Linked DNA regions of Homo sapiens. The protein of the gene in region 1 interacts with the protein of each later gene in a pairwise test. Each region holds a gene or a part of one and is shown on either strand. Other genes may lie near its edges.

What was found.
Region 2: the proteins of CDC25A (region 1) and SOX5 interact in a two-hybrid assay, tested with the Homo sapiens proteins (one large-scale study listed by BioGRID and IntAct).
Region 3: the proteins of CDC25A (region 1) and CUL3 interact in a two-hybrid assay, tested with the Homo sapiens proteins (one large-scale study listed by BioGRID and IntAct).
Region 4: the proteins of CDC25A (region 1) and MTAP interact in a two-hybrid assay, tested with the Homo sapiens proteins (one large-scale study listed by BioGRID and IntAct).
Region 5: the proteins of CDC25A (region 1) and CAMK1D interact in a two-hybrid assay, tested with the Homo sapiens proteins (one large-scale study listed by BioGRID and IntAct).
Region 6: the proteins of CDC25A (region 1) and DUSP8 interact in a two-hybrid assay, tested with the Homo sapiens proteins (one large-scale study listed by BioGRID and IntAct).
Region 7: the proteins of CDC25A (region 1) and NAA11 interact in binary tests that used the Homo sapiens proteins (3 or more experiments, as listed by UniProt).

The regions. Positions count from the first base shown.
Region 1 is NC_000003.12:48,181,918-48,185,417, forward strand, and holds part of CDC25A (M-phase inducer phosphatase 1), read right to left. Parts: intron 2,779-3,500; coding exon 2,736-2,778; intron 1,920-2,735; coding exon 1,883-1,919; intron 1,114-1,882; coding exon 1,012-1,113; intron 1-1,011. UniProt on the Homo sapiens protein: Tyrosine protein phosphatase which functions as a dosage-dependent inducer of mitotic progression. Directly dephosphorylates CDK1 and stimulates its kinase activity. Also dephosphorylates CDK2 in complex with cyclin-E, in vitro.
Region 2 is NC_000012.12:23,537,171-23,540,670, forward strand, and holds part of SOX5 (transcription factor SOX-5), read right to left. Parts: intron 1-3,500.
Region 3 is NC_000002.12:224,501,864-224,505,363, forward strand, and holds part of CUL3 (cullin-3), read right to left. Parts: intron 1,960-3,500; coding exon 1,789-1,959; intron 1,210-1,788; coding exon 1,102-1,209; intron 1-1,101. UniProt on the Homo sapiens protein: Core component of multiple cullin-RING-based BCR (BTB-CUL3-RBX1) E3 ubiquitin-protein ligase complexes which mediate the ubiquitination and subsequent proteasomal degradation of target proteins.
Region 4 is NC_000009.12:21,809,136-21,812,635, reverse strand, and holds part of MTAP (S-methyl-5'-thioadenosine phosphorylase), read right to left. Parts: intron 1,148-3,500; exon of another isoform or gene 274-1,147; intron 1-273. UniProt on the Homo sapiens protein: Catalyzes the reversible phosphorylation of S-methyl-5'-thioadenosine (MTA) to adenine and 5-methylthioribose-1-phosphate. Involved in the breakdown of MTA, a major by-product of polyamine biosynthesis.
Region 5 is NC_000010.11:12,356,047-12,359,546, forward strand, and holds part of CAMK1D (calcium/calmodulin-dependent protein kinase type 1D), read left to right. Parts: intron 1-3,500. UniProt on the Homo sapiens protein: Calcium/calmodulin-dependent protein kinase that operates in the calcium-triggered CaMKK-CaMK1 signaling cascade and, upon calcium influx, activates CREB-dependent gene transcription, regulates calcium-mediated granulocyte function and respiratory burst and promotes basal dendritic growth of hippocampal neurons.
Region 6 is NC_000011.10:1,565,772-1,569,271, forward strand, and holds part of DUSP8 (dual specificity protein phosphatase 8), read right to left. Parts: exon of another isoform or gene 2,178-3,500; intron 164-2,177; 5' UTR 56-163; coding exon 1-55. UniProt on the Homo sapiens protein: Has phosphatase activity with synthetic phosphatase substrates and negatively regulates mitogen-activated protein kinase activity, presumably by catalysing their dephosphorylation.
Region 7 is NC_000004.12:79,316,188-79,319,687, reverse strand, and holds the end of NAA11 (N-alpha-acetyltransferase 11), read left to right. Parts: intron 1-1,896; 3' UTR 1,897-3,041; downstream 3,042-3,500.

The DNA.
Region 1 (3,500 bases):
GAGAAAACTAGACCTTGCAGGTTAAGGAATGTGCCCAAAATATTGAAGTAAAACAGGACAACTCCAGAGTGAGAGCTCTTTAACCACCATCTATGCTGTTTTCCCTTTAAAACAAAGCTCCAGGCAAGCAACCCTGAGAAGCTATTTCGGGGGAAAACCAGGCATCAGTACAGCTTTGCCCTGGTAAAAAGCACTAGAGGCTGATACACTGTTCCAAGCACTCAAGGCTGGAACTCATTTCCATATTCTTTCTCATGACACTTCCCAGGTTGATAAAGAAATCATCAGGAGAGTTCATGGAGGCAGTGGGTTTCACACTAAACCTGAAGATTGTAAGGACAAGGATTATGAACTGTGGCATTTCAGCAGGAATGGAAAAGGGGAGAAAGTAAATATATAGAAATACAGTAGAGAGAAGGCTGAAAAAATTACAACTGTTTTGGATGCCTACTCTGTGCAATGTCTAAAAGAACAAAAAAGCCAGGCTCATTCAGGGTAGATAACCAGAAATTCACCTTCCAAGCCACCATTTCAGTTACTCTGAGATTCCCTAGAACTTGTTGACCCCGTTCTTACAAATACTGCCAAAGAGCCTTTTCCTAAGCTTACAATTCATTTCAGGGTCAGAGCAAAGAGGCAAGGACAGCCTGGGCAGAGCCTTCCAGACAAACACTATTTGTACATGTAATTACTCCTGTGAGCTACAATCTGAGCAACTCCCGCCTGTCAGGCACCATTTTCAATACTTCATACATAATCTTACTTATTGCCACAACATCCCTAAAAGGTATTACTACTCCTATTTTACAAAAGAGCAAAGATTAAAAAGAGAAGAATTTGCCAACATCACACAGCTAGTAAGCAGGATCCAAACCCAGAATTCTCTGACTCCAAAGACCGCACATAATGGCCAAGTTTAGTCTCCCAGAAAGCAGCCCAGCCACTTCTAAGCCACTGACAGCCTGTGGGTTTCACCTCTGCCTCAGGTTAGTACATTGAAGTCACACTCACATTTTCCTTGTTCTCATCTGGGTCGATGAGCTGAAAGATGTCATGGTCAAGAGAATCAGAATGGCTCCTCTTCAGAGCTGGACTACATCCCAACAGCTTCTGCTATCAAAGTAAAAAAGGAAAATAATTAAGGCACACAAATAAAATTTCAGTGGAAAATTCAGTTCTCAAAAGAAAAAAAAGGGGGGTTGAATAGGGGGTAGACTAGCTCCTCACACACTGCAGTAGGTAACCAGTAAATGTGGCCAGGAATCCACCTTGCCAGGACACAGCCAGGACACAGCATAGAAGTTTCCATTCCATGGGTTTACAGCTAACCTCACAAGGTCTACAGTGCCCCCCTCAACAGGGATTACAGTGCCAAATCAATCCCCAAATAACATTTGCATCAAAAGAACCCTTCCTGGTTTAATAAAGCTCTGTTAGAGATGGAGGACAAATTCCTCCAGACCGAACATCTTGAGTACTTATGAGACTAAGGAAAGGCTGGGAATAGTGGCTCTTGCCTATAATCCTAGCACTTTGGGAGGCCGAGGCAGGAGTTTGAAACCAGCCTGGGCAACAGAGTGAGACCCCCATGTCTACAAAAAATACAAAAATCAGCCGGGTGTGATGGTGTGCACCTATATATAGTCCCAGCTCCTCTGGAAGTTGAGGTGGGAGGATCACTTGAGCCAGGGAAGCAGAGGTTGCAGTGAGCCAAGATTTTGCCACTGCACTCCAGCCTGGGTGACAGAGCAAGACCTTGTCTCAAAAGAGACTAAAGAAAAGCAGTTTTTACTCTCTAAATTAAGTCTCCTATCAAGGTCATGCTGGTAGCTAAGGAACAGATAACAGGTATTAGCTCAAAATAAACAAGGAACTAACTTACAGGTAGGGAATGTATTCTTCTCATAGGATTTTCAAGGCTGTAATGAGATCAGAAGGTAAATAATGAGAATAAAACAAGTAAAGAGGTATTCATATTAGCAGAGAGATAGTGTTTAGCCTGTAGCTTGGGGGTACAGTCACAGACTCCCATTTTAGGCAAGAGATGGGAGAATAAATTTCTGAAGCTGTCCTGTTCTCAGGAGCACCCCCAACACTAGACTTCTAGGTGAAAAAAAACAAACCCATGTCTTTTCTTAAAATACACACATTCGGCTGGGCGCGGTGGCTCACACATGTAATCCCAGCACTATGGGCACTATGGGAGGCCGAGGAGGGTATATCACGAGGTCAGGAGTCTCGAACTCCTGGCCTGGCCAACACGATGAAACCTCGTGTCTACTAAAAATACAAAAATTAACCGGGTGTGGTGGTGCACTCCTGTAGTCCCAGCTACTCGGGAGGCTGAGGCAGGAGAATCAGTTGAACCTGGGAGGTGGAGGTTGCAGTGAGCCACTGCACTCTAGCCTGGGCGGCAGAGTGAGACTCTGCCTCAGAAACAAACAAACAAACAAACAAAAAAACCCCACATGTTCTTGTAAGGCTATGATGTCAGAGCACAGAGTAAGGGTTTGGGTAAGACCCAAACAGAACACCAAAATTATAGCTAAAATAAAGGAGAAAAAGTTCTGAAAATTGCTGACACAAACTATTCATTCTTGAGATTCCAGAGTGTTTCTAGGCACAGGTAAATCCAGGGCTCCAGTCCAGTGTATGAAGAACTTCATTTAAATAAGGTATTTAAGTTTAGACACGTTTTTTCTACATATAAACATTTGAAAGCAGTGAATACATACTTTTCTTTACTGTCCAATGGCCCAGGAGAATCTAGACAGAAACCTATGGGGAAAAAAAAAACCTCTCAAGAAATAATACAAAAAACACCATTTTGTCATTAAAATTAAAACACTAAACAAAGTACCTGGGTCTTTATTTAAGTCAGGCAACAAATATTCATGGCTTGTACTTTTGCCAGAATTGATGTTACGTCTATTAGATTGTCAAAAATGTCATGTTTGTACAAGTCTTAATATTTTCATAGCGTATTTACTGTTTTTTCTCCTATTTGCAAATAACATCAAGGGAAATAGGATTTGAGAAGAGGGTGAATAAAACTGATTCATATCATGATTGTTTGGTTATTCAGATAGAGGTGACCCAGATAACTTTCTGTGAGTTCCAACCATAGAAACAATAGGTACCAGATTTTCTTGGCATAGTTTTTAAACGTTTTACCTTGTCAAATCATATGAGGCTTGAAAAATACAACTACTGACCAGGCACAGTGGCTCACACCTGTGATTCCAATACTTTGGGAGGCTGAGGCAGGCTGATGGCTTGAGGCCACAAGTTCAAAACAAGCCTGGGGCAACATAGTGAGACTTGACTCTACCAAAGTTAAAAAAAAAATTAGTTGGGTGTGGTGGCACGTGTCTGTAGTCCCAGCTACTTGGGGAGGCTGGAGTGGGAGGTTCGCTTGAGCTCGGAAAGTTGAAGCTACAGTGAACCCTGATTGTGCCACTGTACACCAGCCTGAGACCTGGAAAACAGAGCAAGACCCT
Region 2 (3,500 bases), on another chromosome or scaffold:
ATTCCTTTGATTAAACATTTAATTATAATTAAAATTATAATATTAATAAACATGGAGTGGGTAACTACTATGTGCCAGACACTGTGCTGAAACCTTGACATACTGATGTCTTTTTCCTACCTTTCACCTCAATCTTATAAAAGAGACAGCATTTCTATCTATTTTCATAGATGAGAAAATTGAGATTCAAATAGATGGACTAACTTAGCCAGGGTCATAATTACTGAAGTACAGATCTGTGACTCAAACTCAGATTTGATATAACTTAAATTGTGCTATAATGTATGCCCTTTCCTACATATGGCCACCTACTATACAAAATATAGCAGAGGTCACAATTACTGTAAATGCGTATTACGATTTTCTCTTAATAAATCAATTTCAATAACATACAAAGACGTCACTTCCCATGATACAGTCTGCTTTAGTAATAATAACCCAAATTGTTTTCCCCCTTTCTTTTCACTATTAATTTTGGTGTGAATTTAGCTGGGATTAAAAAAGACAAGTTTGAAGCTTAAATAAAAATAGTTTATGCTAATTCACATTTTAGATATGGTTTAAAACTTGGATTCTGTCAGTATGGCTATGTGTAATAGAAGTGGTAATGTGTCCGGAATTGGTGGGTTCTTGATCTCACTGACTTCAAGAATGAAGCTGCGGACCCTCGCGGTGAGTGTTACAGTTCTCAAAGGCGGTGTGTCCGGAGTTTGTTCCTTCTGATGTTCGGATTGAGAGGTGACAGCGTGCTGGCAGCCCTCAGTAGTAATAGCGTTTTTTTTTTTTTAATAGTGATTTAAAAATCTATTTGCAGATGAAGTGTGTTTATCTGCAAATAGTCATCTCAACTCAACGCGAATGCACAAAGACCGATAAACTGGAACTAGGATATCCCTACCAAATGGCCTTATACCTGCCTTCAAATGTCATCTAAGTAAGATCTTAGAATCTTTCGAATGAGTTCATTACTCACCCGTAACTCCCTATCTTAAATGCAAATAGCTCACTGTTGAATAGTTCTTCCTTACACATGTAAAGAGTTCCTCAATATGGGCTGTTACATTTATTAAAGCATACAGTGAAAGAGGCAATATCTCTTCCCTTAGAAATGTTACCATTGGAAGAGATATTGTATTGCATAGGTATAAATATAGATTTTTCCAAATCTAGAAAGCCAATGTGAATTTATTCTATTTACAGTATAAACTCAGGTTACAGTGCAAATAATAGAGTTTCTTTTTCTATTCCTTTCGTAAACTTCTGTTTAAATAGCATCATCCAACATTAGGTTGGTTGGTCAAGCCATATCATTTGTAGGGACAATCTCAAACTCCTTGTTGGCCCAGCATTATTCTCTGAAGATACTTGAATACCATTATGTTATTCTCAGGGCCTATATAAACACAGATATGGTTATGATCCTATTGAACTAGAACAACCGTTTTCATTGAGTTTCTTCCAAGCATTTATACCAGTTTTTTGAACTTCAGATCAGGGAGTGGAAAGTGAGCTTACCATAAATAACTCACAAATAGGAATACACTGATAAATGGATCAAGGATGGTTGATCTAATATAAAATTTATTAGCTAGCTTTATCCCAAAATTCGAAAACGAAACCAGCATTTTCTTTTTTTTTTTTTTTTTTTGAGACAGAGTCTTGCTCTTTCGCCCAGGCTGGAATGCAGTGGTGTGATCTCGGCTCACTGCAAGCTCCACCTCCCGGATTCACGCCATTCTCCTGCCTCAGCCTCCCGAGTAGCTGGGACTACAGGCGCCCGCCACCACGCCCGGCTAGCTTTTTTTTTTGTATTTTTAGTGGAGATGGGGTTTCACCGTGTTAGCCAGGATGGTGTCAATCTCCTGATCTCGTGATCTGCCCGGTTCGGCCTCCCAAAGTGCCGGGATTACAGGTGTGAGCCACCACTCCTGGCCAAGCATTTTCAATTAGAAGGGGAATTGCCAAAGATTCTTCCCTAAGTTTAAATGATCTATACGCCAAAAGGCTTTGGCCTCTCAAAGGAAAGAAAATGTTTATGCTTAGAAGTAATCTGCCTTGGAATGCGAGAGCTGTTTGTTTGTATATTTCCTACTATGTACATAATGTTGCATTCATTCCTTAATAAATATATAGTAGTGAGTGAATACAGAAAGTTATAGTTCCTGTCTCTTTGCAGCTTATATTCAGTCAGGGAATATACATTAAATATCTAATTACAAAATTTATTATTTTCCTTATAGTTGTAGAAAGTACAGGAAGGTAAGAGAATATGATGAGGCAAGATCAATCCTCTGCAGGTCAGGAAGGCTTTGCTGTAGAAATGACTCCCGTGGGGCTCACAAAGAGAAGAGCATCCTATTGAGGAAGAATATAATAGTTGAGGTCTTTCGGTGGAAAGAGGAGTTAGACTAACTTAAAGAAAGCTGGTCTGGCTTAAAAAAAAAAAAAAAGAGGAAAAAAAGATGCGTGTATGTAAAGAAATGGGATAATAAAAGATGTGTAAATTCTCAGATAAGTTGGCTTCCAAATCTGGCATGAACGGGAATTATAAAATAGTTTAACTCTTGATAGTATAATTTCTTTGAGAGTATCACTGAATCCTAAATTACACTTTAAAATATGGCCATATAATAATTCCAAGTCTTTTCAAAACTAAGAATAAAGATAGGCTAAGTACTAACCGGGTCAAATGGCTGACTGACTACTATATTTTATGACAGTACAGGGCAGTGTTTCCATTTGGTGGTAAATCCAGTTTTCATTTTCAAAATAGTAACCTTGAATTAGCTTAACCAACTGACAAGTTTGGTTTTGATTTCAATGGCTTTGCAGGTACTATAACCATTGTATGCAGCTGAGGTGTTAACTAACCCCTGAAACATACTTGATGAGAATGGCAGGAAAATATTTTGGATAAACAACAATAAAAAAAAAAAAAGAGAGAAAAAATATCTACTTGATTTGGGGGTGGCTGGCTGCTTACTCTGGACTGATGTACAGGGAGTTTATTCATTCCCTGCTGCTTTCAAAAGGTTGTCGTTTTAGAATAAAAAAGCAGAGAAGGAGGGATAGCATTAGGAGATATACCTAACGCTAAATGACGAGTTAATGGGTACAGCACACCAGCATGGCACATGTATACATATGTAACTAACCTGCACATGGTGGACATGTACCCTAAAACTTAAAGTATAATAATAATAATAATAATAATAATAATAATAATAATAATAAAAAGCAGAGAAGGACAATTGGGTTTTCCTCCTGATGACAAAAGAGGAAGTTTCAATCAAAAGTATTTGATGCTCAAAATAGGGGAAAAAATAAGGTCCAACGATTATTCCTTTCCTTTCTAAATCTGGCAATACACTGAAAGTGAAGAGTTTGCGCTGGGCAACATTGTCATCTCCGTGGGGTCTGTAGTGAATTTGCACATTTTACTCCAACTAAACTACTGTATATCTAATCAGAAAAAGATGTCCCTCTTCCCCTGATCTAGC
Region 3 (3,500 bases), on another chromosome or scaffold:
AGAAAAAAATTTAAAAACTTACTAGAGCAAACAAAAAAATACAAGAAAATATATCAATATATTAGATTTAACTATAAATTCCTAAACAATCTAAAAATAAAAATCCAGGATAATTACACCACTATTTCCTGTCCACCCGAAATTTCTGTCATGGACTTGCATCTTTCCTCCTCTCAGCTCTTCTCCACTGTAAACACTGATATTTATAAAGCAAATCATACAACTATTTACATTAGAGTCAGAATGTTTTCATAGAAATGAATGGTTATTCTACAGAATTACGTATTTTCACGTATCTGGTTTGCGAGACTATAAGGCCAGTAGAAGTGATGATCTCATATTTAGATACCAAAGGAAAAGACTCACAAATCTGTTAAATGGTTGTGACACATTTTAACCATAGAGTGGTACACGGTGATTTTAAAAATTTAAAAACTGTACAATTCTCTAAACTTAAGGTTAAGTTGAAAATCAGAGTAAAAAATGAAACTAAATTCTGAATTTCATTAAATGCTCATAAAACTCCCATCAGACTCCAAAGCTAAAGAAGTTCCAGCTCACCACCTTTGGGGAGTTATACCAAACACATTTATAATACATTAATTTCTGTGTTTTTATAGTCTCACTTCACCTGCTACGCACCCTTAGGATGTAAGTCCCATTTAAGCTAAACTTACAGAGGAGAATAATAGTAGTGAGGTATAGGAAGGTCAGGTGACTATCCCAAGATGACACAATCTTGGGGTAAAGTGAAAAGAAGAGTACTGAAACTCAGTAAACTTGTGTTAAGCCCAGTACTCTTTCCACAATTTATAATAGATTTGTATTATCTTTATTAACAACAGAATAATTCTCTTTATTAAATTGTCAGTGTATTCCTTCAAGTGGGAAGAAACAACTAAATTTTAAAAGAATAAAAAGTTTTAACATAAACACAGAATAAGAGGCAATGTGAAGGAAAATTAAGTACTCACAGATAAAACACATGTTGTCACTAATGACATTTAAAGAAACAACTGTCATCTGCTAAGTGGATGAAAATATACCCATTACAAAAGACTTTACATGAATATCTAAGTAGAAATTAACGCAGAATCTTACACCAGTTGCCTGTAGATGTTGCCTGAATTCATCCATCGTTGTGTTTGAGATGCTCATATCCCTAAACATTCCTTCCAGTTTTGACGTGAACTGACATCCACATTCAGTCTGTGGAGGAAAAACACAAATATACACAAATAAATGGTAGATGTTTCTATGAGAAAGTACAGAAAGAAATAAATTATTTCATGTTATTGCTATCCCTGATAATCTTCCTGTAAATTTTTCCAACAGTTGCTCTGTGCCTGTGGTTATCAAACTTTAGGATTTTAAAATGCAAATTCCCAGATTCTTTCAGAGATTCCAATATACCCCCATGAAAGGCAGGGCCCAGAACTGTTTTTAACTAGCATCTCAGGTGATTCACGTGCAAGTATTCTATGGACCACACTTTGTGAAAAAGAACTACACAGCATAGCCTCTTTATTGTTTCCCTTTTACTAATCCTCCCTTCCAGGCCTCCATGAATGTATCCTGACACACCAACAGAAATTCCAGCAAACTCTGAATGTCCCTGAACTTGAACAAATGTTAGTGTAGTCTGTGTTCTTCTCCAAAACAATCTACCTTTATTTCTAGAAATAAACACTTAATAATCTACCAAATTAATTTCCAATCACGTTGTCAGTACACAATCATAATAAACCTCAGTTAGGTGCACTCTATTTCATCTAAAACACACCTTACCTTTAACTTAGATATCATGTTTTTTTCAGAGTCATCAGAAACACTTTTATTTGTGAGAAGTCTCCTTGCCAAGTGTTGTTTATAATAACGTTCAAATACATCTTTTTCTTGCATAAACCTAAAAAGGACCATTGCTTTATCCAATATTGTTTCTACTTCTTGTTCTGTTAGCTGCAAAATTAAGATGATGTAACAATTATACAATTTTAGTTCTACAAAAGCAGTACTACGGTTCATTTACAGCTTAAAAACACTATTGTTTGAAAACATAGATATCTGGTTGACATACATCAAAAAAAGGGATACGGTTTGAGAAAGTGTCTCCTACTTCACACAGTAGCATCATTCTTACATTCTCATTTAGTGCATCATGAATGAGGGGTTGGAGTGGAATTCTATTCCGTAGAGGGCTACCACTGAATTGGAGGCATAAGGTAATATAGCGCTGGGTTAAGGGATGATTGAGAACAGATGAAATGAAATTTTAGTCACAGAGATTATTTTATGAAGCCTTTGCATATGCAGGCAAAAACTTACACAGCCAAAAGACGGAATTTTTCATTTAAGCTCACTGAAAGCCTCAACTGTGCAAACAAAAGGCAATAATTTGTTATAATCCAAACAGTAAAAAGGCCATTGCCCTTACTTTATTTTTTTATTTCTATTTTTTTTTTCTTTTGAGACGGAGTTTCACTCGTTGCCCAGGCTGGAGCGCAATGGCGCCATCTCGGCTCACCGCAACCTCTGCTTCCCGGGTTCAAGCAATTCTCCTGCCTCAGCCTCCCGAGTAGCTGGGATTAGACATGCACCACCACACCCGGCTAATTTTGTATTTTTAGTAGAGATGGGTTTCCTCCATATTGGTCAGGCTGGTCTTGAACTCCCAACCTCAGGTGATCCGCCGCCTTTGCCTCCCAAAGTGCTGGGATTACAAGCGTGAGCCACTGTGCCTGGCTGCCCTTACTTTTAAATAAGGGCAAAAGGATTCTGTGGCAGGTTGTATTAATATATTTGAAAAACGGAAGACCAAATGAATGCATAAATTAATAGACTTTTCTATTCTGTGCAACCTTAGTGATTTTGTTCCCTTATTGCAGCTACTGCCTGTAAAACCTGTGACGACATGTTGCTTTTCCCTTTGGTGTCACAAATTCCAAAATGAAGTCAAAAGAGACCAATTCAGATGTGAGCATGTTTTATGCTTCAGTTGATTTTCTATGCTGTCGTGAGCTCCTCAGGTTCCAGAGATATCATATATCACAAAGGCTTGAAATTGAGCTACACCAACCATTTTCTGAGATGAGATCTACTCTATCTATGCCTTAATATTCTTGGCATCCAATTATTGTTTGACATATAACCTTCAGAACCAGATGAGAGCAAACAACACTCTCTACTAGAAAGTTTTCTAGTTCTTTATCTTCAGCATGCCTAACTCTCAGTCATAAAAATGACTGTTTACCAACTACAGCTGTGTAGTTGTTCAGTTTTTTTTTTTTTTTTGAGACGGAGTTTCGCTATTGTTGCCCCAGCTGGAGTGCAGTGGCGTCATCTTGGCTCACTGCAACCTCCGCCTCCTGGGTTCAAGTGATTCTCCTGCCTCAGCCTCCTGAGTAGCTGGGATTACAGGCATCCACCACCATGCCCAGCTAATTTTGTATTTTTAGTAGAGATGGGGTTTCACCAAGTTGGTCAGGCTGGTCTCAAACTCC
Region 4 (3,500 bases), on another chromosome or scaffold:
CTTAATGACCTCATCCACCCTCAGGAAACAATGACAAGACCTTGCCAGGCCTCCTGGGCAGGAAGCGTCAGTCCTCAGTCCAGTTAATTCTAGACTGTGTAGGAAATGTGTTCAAGACCTGAGATGGAATTTCTGCCCAGCCAGGACTTCTTTATTACACAAGATAGAGTTCTGAAATAGGGAGTCAATCAAGGTCCTTGACAGATTTTAAAAGCTAGTGGCTCATGCCACACTTTTCCACGGACTGACCATCAAACCAAACTTCTCAAAACTAGACCTTCTGCAATGATAATAAATAAAGCTCTCTATGACATCTGCCTCAGAACCCTAAAGCTGCCCACACCTACCTACAGTGACTTGAACCACCTGGTGTCTGCAGCCATGAGTGGGGTCACCATCTGTCTGCATTTCCCTGGCCAACTCAATGCTGACTTGCAGAAGCTGGCCGCAAACATGGTCCTGTTCCCCCACCTGCACTTCATGTATGGCTTCCCCCTGCTGACCAGCTGGGACAACCAGCAGTACTGGGCCCTCATGGTGCGTGAGCCCACTTGGCAGTTCTTTGATGCCAAGAATATGATGGCTGCCTGCAACCTCTGCCATGGTTGCTACGTAATGGTAGCTGCCATGTTCAGGGGCCACATGTCCATGAAGGAGGTGGACATGCACATGCTTAATGCCCAAAATATGAACAGCAGCTACTTTGTTGGTTGGATCCCCCAAGATATAAAAACAGCTGTGTGTGACTTCCCACCCTCAGGGCTAAAGATGTCCGGCCACCTTCACTGGCAACAACACTGCTATCTAGGATCTGATCAAGGGCATCTCAGAGCAGTTCACAGGTATACTTCGGTGCAAAGCTTTCCTGTACTGGTACACGGGCGAGGGCATGGATGAGATGGAATTCACCGAGGCTGAAAGCAACATGAACGACCTGGTGTCTGAGTACCAGCAGTAGCAGGAGGCCACGGCTGAGGAGGAAGAGTTTGAGTGAGCCAAGGAGGAGGTAGGTGGCCTAGAGCCTTCTGTTACTGTGTAAAGGGTGGAAGTGGTGTGAACCCTTTATTCACGCACAATCTGTTCTATGACAGCCATGTCTTAGTGTATGTGCGCTTGCTGTTGTGTCTTGACATCACATGTTCTAAAGACACCCCAAAGAAAGCATTTTCACAGTGAAAAAAAAAATTTTTTTGTTCAAGAGCAAATCAATCCAAGGGTCTGACTTCTCTGAGACTGTGAAAGCATTTATCCAAATACCAGTTCACCTGGTCAGAACAGTTACTTCTAGCAATGTGGAAAGGGTGCATAGTAACCCCTACTCTGTCTATTTCTTCTAGTACCTGGCTACAGGAGATTTTACCAACCCTTCTTTGTCCCAGAAACCATTCACCATCACTTTGAGGCCTGGGCACACTGCCGTAAGGAACCCAGCACTCTATAATGGCATTTTCAAAATACCATCACCCCAAGCGGTTGAGACTAGCTCATGCCAGGGAGATGGGCTGCCTCTGAGTGCCTCAAGCTCACGATAAGGTAAGCGAGCCAGAGCTGGAGCTGGCACAGCCCGATCTGAGCACTGCAGTCCTTTAGCTCTGGTTGCCATAACAATTTTGGCAAGCACAGCAGACGGAGGCCCTCATTATTAGGCTGACATGGCTTTGAGGCCTGTCAGGGCCTTGCAAAATCCTGGAAGCCTAGCTGTATGAGAGGGAGCAACCAACTGTCTCAGGCTGTGAGGACTGTTAAAAACCTGCAATAGGGTCCACAGGGATAGCTGGGGTCTCCATCTCTGACAAGACACCCCCTCTGTAGGCCACCCTTGTAGGTAATGGTTATGGATGGAATTGTATCTCCCCTAAGTTCATAGGTTGAAGTTCCAACTCTCAGTACCTCAGAATGTGACTGTATTTGCCGTTTTTAAAGAGGTAATTCAGATCAAATGAGGTCACTGGGATGGGCCCTAATGCAGTATACCTCATGTTATGGTTTGAATGTGGTCATCTTCAAAACTCATGTTGAGGCTTGGTCCCCAAATATAGTGATGCTGGGAGGTAGTACCTTTAAGAGGAGTTTGAGTCATGAGCCATGGTAATAATCCACCCCAATTAAGGGATTCATGCAGTCCCAGGGGAGGGTGTTCTTGCTCTCATTGGGTTGGATTAGTTCCAGTGAGAGTGGGTTGTTATGAAGCAAAGTTTGTCTCTTTTTTGTTTCCTTTTCCTATCTCCCTCGTCTCCCTTTCATTTCTTTTAAATAAACCTCTTCTCTTTATAAATTACCCTGTCTCAGGTATTCTGTTATAGCAACAGAAAACAGACTAAGAAAACTGTTGTCCTTACAAGAGATTGGGATATAACCACATACAGAGGGAAGACCCTGTGAAGACAAATGGAGAACATTGCCATGTACAAGCCAAGCAGACTGACCTTACAAGAAATCCACCTTGATCTCACCTTGATCTTGGACTTCTAACCTCCAGCGCTGTGAGGAGATAATGCTTCTGTTGCATAAGCTACCCATTCTGTAGTGCTTTGTTATAGCAGGCCTAGCGAACTAATACAGTGACTCTATATTTTAGTCAGAGAAGCTTGGATGATGCAAGCGCTCAAAACATCCATGGTTTTTATTTGAGCAAATGCCCCTTGAGAAGTACAGATATCAGTCTAAAGGGCAGACACCCTCTTAAAGACACACTTCACCTGCTGAAATGGCCAGATATTTTTAGAGGAGGACTCTCCCTAATGCATACTTTGTTAGAGCTCTCCTTTGCCTGTGGAGCAACAGTGGGAGCCACCCACCCTCCTGAACCAGCTGCTGGATACTAGGACATTCCCCTTCTCTAGCTTTCAATACCAAAGCCCAGGCCTCAGGGATTCTGATTAGTTGGGCAAGGCGTAGTTTGTTTTTAAAGCTCCGCAGGTGGTTCTAAAGTGCCCTCAGAACTAAGCAACCTGCTCTAGGGCCTAGACCATAAATTTCTTTCTTTTTTTTTTTTTTGAGACGGAGTCTCACTCTGTCGCCCAGGCTGGAGTGCAGTGGTGCGATCTCGGCTCACTGCAAGCTCCGCCTCCCAGTTTCACACCATTCTCCTGCCTTAGTCTCCCAAGTAGCTGGGATGACAGGAGGCTGCCACCGTGCCCGGCTAATTTTTTGTATTTTTAGTAGAGACGGGGTTTCACCATGTTAGCCAGGATGGTCTCAATCTTCGGATCTTGTGATCCGCCCGCCTCAGCCTCCCAAAGTGCTGGGATTACAGGCATGAGCCACCGCGCCCGGCCCCTAGACCATAAATTTTTAAAACGTGGGCTGAGTGTGGCAAGCTGAACAATGCCCCTGTCCCAAGAGATCCTAGCTACATCCTAATTCCCAGAACCTGGGAATGTTACCTCAAATATGATTAAATCCAGGATCTTGAGATGGGGAGATTATCCTAGATTACCTGGGTGGGACCTAAATGAAATCACAAGGAGGCAAGAAGGTCAAATGAGGAAGAAAGTGAT
Region 5 (3,500 bases), on another chromosome or scaffold:
ATGTGGGAGCCTGCCTGGGATTTTGCAGTGAGCCGAGATTGCACCACTGCACTCCAGCCTGGGCGACAGAGTGAGACTCCGTCTCAAAAAGAAAAAAAAAAAAATCTGCCCGCCCCCACCTCCCAAAGTGCTGGGATTACAGGCGTGAGCCACCTCACCTGGCCGAATTCCGGATGTGTTTTAAAGGTGGAGCTGGTAGGAATTGCTGGTGGACTGGATGTGGGGTGTGAGATTCCCCAAGGACCTGGGCTTGGACGAACAGTTCATTTGGTGGTTTTGTTCAGTTTCCCCAGGAATTCTCGGAGCACCTGCTCTGTCTACACATTATGGGTGCCCGTGTGCTGGGAGGCTCTGGAAACGGGCAAGCACACAGCCTTGGGCTTCTGGGCTCCCCTGGGGAGGGATTTCTGAATTTGAAGGTGAAATTCTCAGAGGGACTTTGAGGTACCTCCTCTTTTGAGGTCAGGAGTTCGAGAGCAGCCTGGCCAACGTGGTGAAACCTCGTCTCTACTAAAAATACAGAAAATTAGCTGGGTGTGGTGCTGTGCACCTGTAGTCCCAGCTACTCCGGAGGCCGAGGCAGGAGAATCGCTTGAATGCTGGAGGTGGAGATTGCAGTGAGCTGAGATTGTGCCACTGCACTCCAGCCTGGGTGACACAGTGAGACTCCATTTCAAAAAAAAAAAAAAAAAAAAAAGAAAAGGTGAAGATAACAAACTTCAGTGTCCTTATTGATTAGTAAAATGAGATTTGGGAAGTGGGAGTTTGGGTAGAGCTTGTTCCCAGAGAAGCTAATGATGACTGTGTCTCAAGTACAAATTTCTGGTTCGAACTTGGCCACTGAATGGACAGTAATTAGGTTTGCTGGTGCCAGGTGGAGATTTGTGTGCTCTCAGGGGAGGATTTCAAGGGTTAACTTGTTGAGTTTTCCTTTGGCTGGGTCTCTGTAAATCTCTTTAATCTTTCCTTTCCCCAAATAAATCTCCTTAAATCCCCTTCAATCTCTCTCCTCCTGCTTCTCCTCCTCTCTCCTCTGGGAGGGCTTAGGCATGGGTCCAGCGGAGATTTGTCACATTACTGGTCAACTTGCCCACCGGGGATATGTTTTCTTTTTTTACTTTTTAAGTTTTTATTTTATTTTCTGAGACAGAGTCTTGCTCTGTCGCCCAGGCTGGAGCGCAGTGGTCCAGTCTCGGCTCACTGCAACCTCTGCCACCCGAGTTCAAGCGATTCTCCTGCCTCAGCCTCCTGAGTAGCTGGGATTACAGGTGTTTGCTTTTTTTTTTTGAGACGGAGTCTCACTCTGTCACCCAGCCTGGAGTGCAGTGGCGTGATCTTGGCTCACTGCAACCTCCGCCTCCCGGGTTCAAGTGATTCTCCTGCCTCAGCCTCCCGAGTAGGTAGGACTACAGGCGCGTACTACCACGCCCAGCTAATTTTTGTATTTTTGGTAGAGATTATGTTTCAACGTGTTGCCCAGGCTGGTCTAAAACTTCTGACGCCAAGTGATCTGCTCACCTCAGCCTCACAAAGTGGTGGGATTACAGGCATGAGCCACTGCACTCGGCCATTATGTTTCTTTAATTAATGAAGGAACTGCTTATAGGCAGCCACCATGAAGCTGGTGCCCGAGTCAGCGGACCCACGTTATTTTCCTGATGCAAGATGGTCAATTCCGTGCTTATTTAGTGCAGGAGGACACGTGGACTCCGGGAAAGATTCCAGCCTGATCTCGGTTCACGTTGGCTATGCCCCTTTGACTTTCTGTGGTGAGGGAGATTTCTTTTTCTCCGGGGTAGTTTTTTATTAGATCTCACTTGATTTTCTTTTCTTTTCTTTTTTTTTGGTTTATTATGCAGTGTATTGATTATTCAGGCTCCAGTTAGATCAAAGGTCACCTCCAAATACATGCCGTAGGTCAAGTTCATTCCGCCACAGACCAAGTTCATTTTATATCTTCAGCTATCTGTTCTCTGTGTCTTGTGCTGTTTTTCCAAATCTTTCAGCAGGACTTAGAAATGGAGAGATTCCAGCCTGGAGTGCTGGCTCACAACTGTAATCCCAGCACTTTGGGAGAATGAGGCAGAAGGATCACTTGAGGCTGGGAGGTTGAGGCTGCAGTGAGCTATGATGGTACCACTACACCCCAGCCTGGGTGACAGAGAGAGACCGTGTCCCCATAGAGAAAGAAAAGAAAAAAGAAATGAGGGACCCAGTACAGTGGCTCATGCCTGTAATCATAGCACTTTGGGAGGCTGAGGCGAGTGGATCACCTGAGGTCAGGAGTTCAACACCTGGCCAACATGGTAAAACCCCGTCTCTACTAAAAACACCAAAATTAGCCGGCATGGTGTTGCATGCCTGTAATCCCAGCTACTCGGGAGGCTGAGGCGTGAGAAACGCTTGAGCCTGGGAGGCGAAGGTTGCAGTGGGCCGAGATTGTGCCACTCCACTCCAGCTTGGGCGACAGAGTGAGACTCTGTCTCAAAAAATAAAAGAAAAAAGAAATGGGGGATTCTGTCTCCTGGTGAACACTGAACCTTGAGAGCAAGCCTTTGATAGGGTATATTTGCTGAGGCCGGGTAAAGGAGGCAACGTAACATAACAGAAAGATCGTTCTGGTGCAGGCATTCATAGCTGAATGCCTCTGGATAGATTCCTTAATCTCTCTGAGTTTAAGAGGGAGATAGGAGTTGCTGCCTTGTGGGATTGTTGTAAGGATTCAGTGACATATGTGAGGTACCTGGCACATAACTGGGATTGAATATACAGTAACTGTCATCAAGCTGTAGTTACCTCCAGCAGCTGAGGTTGGCTTCCCTTGGACATTTGGGGCAGGTTCCATTGGGGAAGAACACGTCAGTATCTGTTGGAAATTGATTTTTTGGAAGCTCTTGTTGCAAATAGGCAGGATGGTGCATATTTAACCTCCCCCAAAATTTATGGTTTCAGCAATCATAAACAATTCTTCAGTCAGCCAGAGAAGAACAATCCACAGTTGTTCTTCCTGGTACAGTGAGTAGCTAAGAACATAGGCTCGGAGGTTACACGGATATGGGTGGAAATCCTGGGTCCACAGCTTCCTAGCTGTATGGCTTTGGGCCAATTATTTTACCATTCTGAGCCTCATGTCCTCATCTGTAAAACAGGATGACACTTGGACCTAATGTGAGGCTTGTGGTGAAGATGAAATGAGGGTGCACGGGAACCACTGAGAGCCGTGTGTGGCACGTGGGTGTGTGTGCAGTCAATGCCCGCTCTCTATCATTTATCCCTGCCCCTCAGAGGCCATTTCCACAGATTTGGAAGGCCCGCTGAGCCATTCAACATTTGCTCCCAACAGGGGTGATTAGTTCATGTAATGCTAGCATTAAGCAAAAGACTCTGCCTGAAACGTCCTCTGGCCCAGCTCCGGTGCTGGAGTGACCTAGTTAGCTGTGTGTCCCAGGCTCAGCCCTCCCCCTGGGTAGCTTCTCGGTTTTTTTTTTTTTCTCTGCACC
Region 6 (3,500 bases), on another chromosome or scaffold:
GGCTGGCCAGCTTCTTGGCATCCATCACCTTCCTCGGGAGCCGGTCCCCAGCCATGGTGGGGCAATGGGTGCTGGGGAGGGTGACCCCTGAAGTGAGGAGGGGCTGCTCCGACGGCCCAGGTGTGGCCTCGCGCTGGGAGTGACCTAGCACATGGTGCTGGACCTGCAGGGACAGGGGGATGGTCAGCAGTGCTGCGGGCCCCTGGGTGGCACCCAGAAGCTCCCCAGGACAGATCAGAGCTGGGAGCTGCGCCCACCAGGACACACCAACATGTGCCCGTGGGAACCCTTCTCCCTCTGGAGAGACCCCGTCCAGGTCACAAGGCCAGCTCTCAGCAGGATGCAACAAGGCAGAGGGGGGCAAATGGGCCCCACAGAGAAGGGTCTGAGGGCTGGAAGAGGCCAGGGGTCCTTCCTGTGGGCCCTGGGGTTCACGGACCCTTAGGCATTCCAGAACATTCCATCTCATCCCTGGGACACAGGCATCTCCCTGCTGTGACTTCTGCATCTTTTCCACCACAGGACCCCCAGCAAGTCGGGGTCTGGACTGCACCTCACCCTCCCACATGGTCAAGCTCTCTGCCCTCCTCCGGGCTTGCTGTCCTCACACCTGCCCCTCTCTCCCTAGCACAGCCCCAGGGAGTCCAATCCCTGGAGACTTGACTCCAGGGCAGCTCCGTAAGCCGATAATCCAGCCCCTGGTGGATGGTGGCCTTGGGGCTGCCTCCACTGGAGAGTGGGCTCCCGGGGGCAGCCGGATAGCAGGCGGGTGCGGGAGGGGCTCAGGCACAGAGGCACGGCTCCTTTGCCACTGCTGCCCTCCTGACCTGCAGGCTGAGGTTTAGTGTGCGCCACGTGCCTGCTGGGGGTGAGTGCCCAGCTCCTGCAGGGGCGTGTTGCACCCACACAGTGCCTCTCCCCTAGCGGAGCCTGGGGTCTAGGAGGCTCCTTCATGGGCTGATAGGGCCCAGGATGGGAGGGGCGGGGCAGCCCTGGGAGGAGGGTCAGTGTCGGGGACCCCGCAGGTGCCAGGCCCTCGGCATGGCCTGCAAAGGCCTCAGACTGCCGGGTGGGCAGGTGGAGTAGGGATGTCTGAGGATGGAGTCTCCGGAAGCCCCTCCTGCAGGCTTGATGACAAGCCTGTCACTGCCCCACTGCCGGGCCCCATCTCCCTGTCACCTGCCAGGACTGGCCTTCCTCTGGGTCCACTTTACACTCACAGCCCCTAGGAGGCGCATAGTGTTAAGGATGATGAGTTTGCTTTAACTATGGGGAAACCGAGGCTTGGGGCAGGGTTGGGACCTGGGTCACACCTGGGTCACACACAGATGGGCACTGGGTGTCCCTGCAATGCCATCTTCCCTGTGCCCCCACAGCTGCCAGGCAGTCAGGAAGTTTACTCCACCCAGCTCAGGACTGAGGGAAGGCTGGGAGATAGATGTACCCTGGGCCCTGCGCCCTGTGCAAAGCGGGCTACGGTGGGTAGCGGGCCCTCAGCAAGCCAGACCCCCAACCCACAGCCACAGGAGGCACTGGGGGGAGGCGCCCTGAGGACACCCATGCACTGCAAACAGCAGGCTGGGGACAGAGGCCACCACCGTTTCTGGACTCTCCAGGTCAGCTCCCAGGCCGGCGGGGGCCAGTGAGAGAGTTCACAGAGCAGCAGGTGCAAGGCTGGTGTGGACCTCGTCCCTGGCCCAGCCCCAACTCCACACTGAGGGGCAGGTCCCAGCTCCTCCCTGCCCAGGAGCCCCAGCCTCGCACTCACTCTCCTTCTCCAGACACTTCAAGCTTGGCCCCTGCCTGGCCCCTCCCGCCTCGACTGGGCCCAGGCTTCTGTGCATTCCCACCATCCCTCCTGTTGCCAGAGGCCAGGGAAACACCTGACTGTGGATGGGCAGCCTCAGCTGACCCCACGGCTGACACCAGGGATTGCAGTGGCACCTGGTCAGCAGGGCCTCAGGATCCCACTCAGATAACGTTCCTGGGCTGGTGCTCCAGCCTCCACCACAGGGTGGGGAACGAGGCCTGGGAGTCCTCTCCAGGGCCAGACCCAGCAAGTTCAACAGCAAAAGGGCCTGCTGCCTGCCTGCTGTGGAGGGTCTCTGCCTGCCAAGGGGGTCCCTGACTACCCACAGGGGGTCCTTGATGAGCTGTTTGTCCTTCCCGAGTTCTACCTGAGCCTTGCACAGGTGGTGAGAGGCGAGGGCCCAGATGTGTGGTTCTGGTGAGACAGCGGCTCCAGGTGCCCCGTAGGATACCCAAGGGTCCAGCTCAGAGACCCAGAACCCCGAGAAGGCTGCAGTGGCAGGGACACTTGGGCTGGGGGTCTTTTGAGGAGCTGCCCCGGCCTCAATGTCCTCATCCGTTAAGTGGGGGTGGATTCTCTCTCACTGAAAACAACAGAAGCAAATACCCCCCAGTGCAGGGAGGAGGGCAGGTGTGAGGAGAGGCCCTCGCCCTCTCTGCAGCCAGGGCCTAGCCTTCATGCAGCCCTGAGTCCTGACACTGCCATGAGAGACCTCGGTGCAGCCAGCCAGATCTGAGACCCAGAGGGAGGGGAGGGAGGAGGGCAAGTCCAGCTGCAGGGTGGTGGGCAGGGGCTGGAGGGGCGGGAGGACGGGTCCTGGCCTTTACCTGGCCCTGCTCTGCCTCCTAAGCAACGCTGAGCTGGAGCTGGGCCTATCACCCACAATAGTATTGTTATTTGCAGCCGAAGGGGATTCATTAGCAAGTTAGCACCTCCATCGTCACCATGGCAACAGCAGAGGTGCCAGGCAACCGCTGCTCCTGCGGCAGCCACCACCATGGAGCAGGCTCCTCTGCAGAGTGGGCACGCGCCCCTCCCTGCTCTCTCCTACCCACCCCAGCAGGTGCCCGGCAGTGCAGAGCCCAGTCCTCAGCCCCTCCGCTCCTCTGCCCTACCTGGTCCTAACCTTCCTTCCCACTCCAGGTACCTGCTGTGCCCAGCATGCTCCCTGCAGCTCGCCGGCTCCCCGCCCCCTCAGAGGCCTTCTCTGTACTGCGAAGGGCTGGCCGAGTGCCCCCTCCTGCAGGAAGCCTCTGTGCCATGCTGGCCTCTGGGAGAGCATCCTCACCCACAGGGTCTCCCTGGACCTACAGCTCCCAGGGGGACATGTTCCTCACCTCTGTCTCCCCAGATGCTAAGGATCGGGGCTCAGCTATGCCAGGGATGGGGCAGGTTGGGTGGGGTGGGGAGCAGAGACACTAAGGACAGTCTGGTGCAGATCAGTGGGGCCAGCACTGGCCATGTGGGAACAGAGGTAAGGAAATGTGGATGGTGTTGGTTCCATGCCTCTCCTTTCACGGCCCCACATGCCAAGCCCTCCTGAGTACCTGTGGCCCTGCTATTCCAGTGCCTAGGGGTTGGGGGGTGAGAGGCAGGGCTGGGGACAGGATGCCCCCTAGCACAGCCCCATACACCCTTTTCAAAAGTCTTTGAGCCCAGGAGGAAGCAGTTTCCAAGTCCAAAGTCAGAA
Region 7 (3,500 bases), on another chromosome or scaffold:
TAGATGCCATTTGTTGAATTATTTATAATCTCTAACAATGTCACCTTTCAATCAGTGTATGATGTACATGTAGGATGACTGAAATACCAACTTTGTCAGAAGTAACTGATAAAAGCAGAGGTTTTTCCTAAATTTTGTACTCTATGCTCTAGTATATGAAATCCAATGGGCTTTATGGTACAGGAGGTTAGATAGAATATTTAAAATTCTTTGAATGGGCAATGATTCAAAGAGCCACCATAAAAGCCTTTCTGAAAATATTCTACAATGCCATTTCTATAGATAAATATCTTTGGAAAATTATAGGATTTTTTTTTAAAGTAAAGCCATAGTATTCTGTTTCATGTTTATAACACCATATCGACAAATAGCATGTATTTGTCAGGCTTCCATAGCCCACCTTTAAGAAAACCTGATAATGTAAAACTTTGAACTTAATAAGCAAGACATTAAGGGCTTGGGGTGGGCACAGCGGCTCATGCCTGTAATCCCAGCACTTTAGGAGGCCAAGGCGGGAGCTTTGCATGAGGCCAGGAGTTCAAGACCAGCCTTGAAAACATAGCAAGACCTAGTCTCTACAAAAACTAAAAAACATTAGCCAGCGTGGTGGTGTATACTGGTGCGTGCTTGTAGTCCTAGCTACTCAGGAGGCTGAGGCTGGAGGATCACTTGTGCCCAGGAGTTTGAGGCTCTTGTGAGCCATGATTGTACCACTGTGCTCCAGTCTGGGTGACAGAGCAAGACCCTGTCTCAAAAAAAGGACTATAATACTAACATTTTAAAGGGAATCTTTATGAAAAATACCTATACTCTTAAACAACAAACTATCCTATAGCCTTTATTACAGTGTTATTTGACTTTTTCAGTTTAATTTCTTAAAATTTTCAAGCAGTATTTACTGAGATAACTAAAACAGCTATATAACTTCTTTTGCATGCCTGTTCATGCAAAAATGAAAAAGGCAATGATGATAGTCTTTCTGACCTGTTCCTCCATATCTTGTGTCTCTTTTGTTATAGCAAATATACTTTAAAAAATAAGATTTTACATAGTATTACCTCTTACAACTGGCTTCACTTGTTATTCTGGCAACAGAATTTTCTATAACAATGATTTTGTACAAAAATGCTTTTTAACTGCTCTGTGCATAATAGTCAGCCTCAATCTTATTTACTTCTGTGTGCATATGATAGATGAAAAGGTACTGAGTAAATATTTATTGAATGAATGAATGAATGGACCTCTCAAATTACCCATATAATAAATTTTTTTAAAGGAGAGAAAAATAATGTATGTATGATTCCTCTTACCTGATATAATTACCTACTTCCTCTTACCTGATGTAATTAGGGCACTTTAATTTGTGAATAAAGAAACATTATGGTTATTTTGGTTTCCTGTCCAGGCCTCAGAAAGAAAATATGACTTATAGAGTTGGACACATTGCATCTAACTTATCAAGAGCTAAAAAGGCCTTTCATTTCTTTAGAATTGGAATAAATTTTCTTTTGAGTGGAGTAGGATGAGATAGAATTTAAAGATGACAAGCAAAATGATCTCAGTTTCTTTAGTTTTAAAATAGGTTCTTTGGGGGTAAATCCCAGTTTTTTGGTGTTCTTCCTGTCCCTTTCTCCTGGCAGAAATGTCCTTTAGATGTCAGGAAAGGTTCATGTGTTCTTATGGCAGGGAGGGGAGAGAGCCCCAGATCTGTGTGTGGTCTTTGTGCAGTCATCTGAATTCTCACTGACTGCCATGGAGATATATCTAGTCCAAACTAGTTACTGGGTTTCTTTATCTGCTGTTCCAGTCTATCATTAACTAAACCAGTATTCTTTCAGAGCTGTCAGAGCTTATAGCTCTCCCTTTCTCATTTGTTTTCTTCTCATTTTTCAACAGCATTTCAGGTCCTCATGTCTCAACCACATCTACTCTGTGAACCCTGGCTTAGTCTGTCTGCTCTGCAGCATCTGCTGTGGGGATCATCTCACAGTGACCAGAATGGCTTCTCACTCTTAACTCTATAAACAACCACCTTTCACATATCCTGCTGGGATCATGAAGGAATACCTGGACACAAGAGCCACTGCACAACAGCCAAGGAACTTTGAGACCTGCCATTACAGAACCTTTCTTGGCCTACTCACACTACGCTGCCATTTTATTCTGTTTGTAGTAGTCCTCTGTTGGGTGTGGTTATCCTGCAAGTTTTTCTCCTTTTAGAATGATGAACAGGAAGCAGGGCAAACTCTTGAAGATTTCCAGCTTTCAGTTTTTGTTTTTGTTTTTTAACCATTATTTACCTGAGTTTTCATCCTTGAGGAGGTGAAGTAGTCAGGACCATGAAGTCAGACCTCATGCCCTCTTCCTCCTCTTTCCTGGAAGAAGTATTCAGTTTCCTTTTCCTTTCTCTGGTAACTCCTCCTTTATACTATTCCCCCCTCCCTTTTTTTTGAGGAGGAGGGCATCACCTTCCCAGTGGGAAAAGGTGTTAAGTTAGGAGCTTCTACTGTACAATCAGAACTTGGAGATTTTAAGAAAAGGACAAACGGTAATTAAATTGGAATCTCTAATGTGCTTGTTTGTGTTAGTTTTTTTGTGATTATGTCACTTGGCATTTATTGAGTACCTGCAGTGTTCACACACAATGCTGGAGCCTTCATTAGTTACATATTTAACCCTCTCAGCAACCCTGTAAAGTAGGTAGTATTATCCCTGTTTTACAGATGAGGAAACTGAAGCTCAGAGAAGTGAATTAAATATCCTGGATCTGAACCCAATTCTGTTTGAATTCAAAGCCAAAGTTCCTTCTACTTTTCTGTTCCTACTCTTTGCATTTTATTTATAAATGTGTTAAAATTTTAGCAAAAATGGAGAATCTGCTGTTTAAAAATGTGTTTGCTTAATACATGGCTACTGTATGTCAATTGTAAATATTTATATAACCTACAATTATAATCTATTTTTATTATTTTTCTCTAGTAAAAATAAGTGAAGACAAAGTACCTTGACCTCTGCAGTAAAAGTTACCAGATAAATCCAGAGTTATCATTACTTAATGTTGTTTTTATGTTCACTGAATGTGAATTACCAAAGTATATAACATTTTTCATGTTTAAACTTTTATGAAAACTGGTGTGTATGGATTTAAGTCAAAGCCTGGACTTTATCTGGTGACAAGAGGTAAGTCTTTTCTGTGTAATCGTAATTAGCCCTGCTAAGCAGTTCTTACAGATCTACCCTAGTGCACTCTAAGAATGTCTGCCTAATGGTAAATGATTGCCTGAGGCAGATATAAAAGTTTTTCCCTACATGAAAGGATTTGCCATTTCTTGTGCCAATACAGTATGATAAAATCTATCTTTCCATCTTTTCCTTTTTTCTTTTTAATATTCTATCTCAACGCTAAATTATTTTATTCTTTCCTCTCAACCATGTGTTTATCTCTTTATTTTTAAATATTACAGCTTTCTAACATCTGTCTCTAGGGCAGCATAATCTTA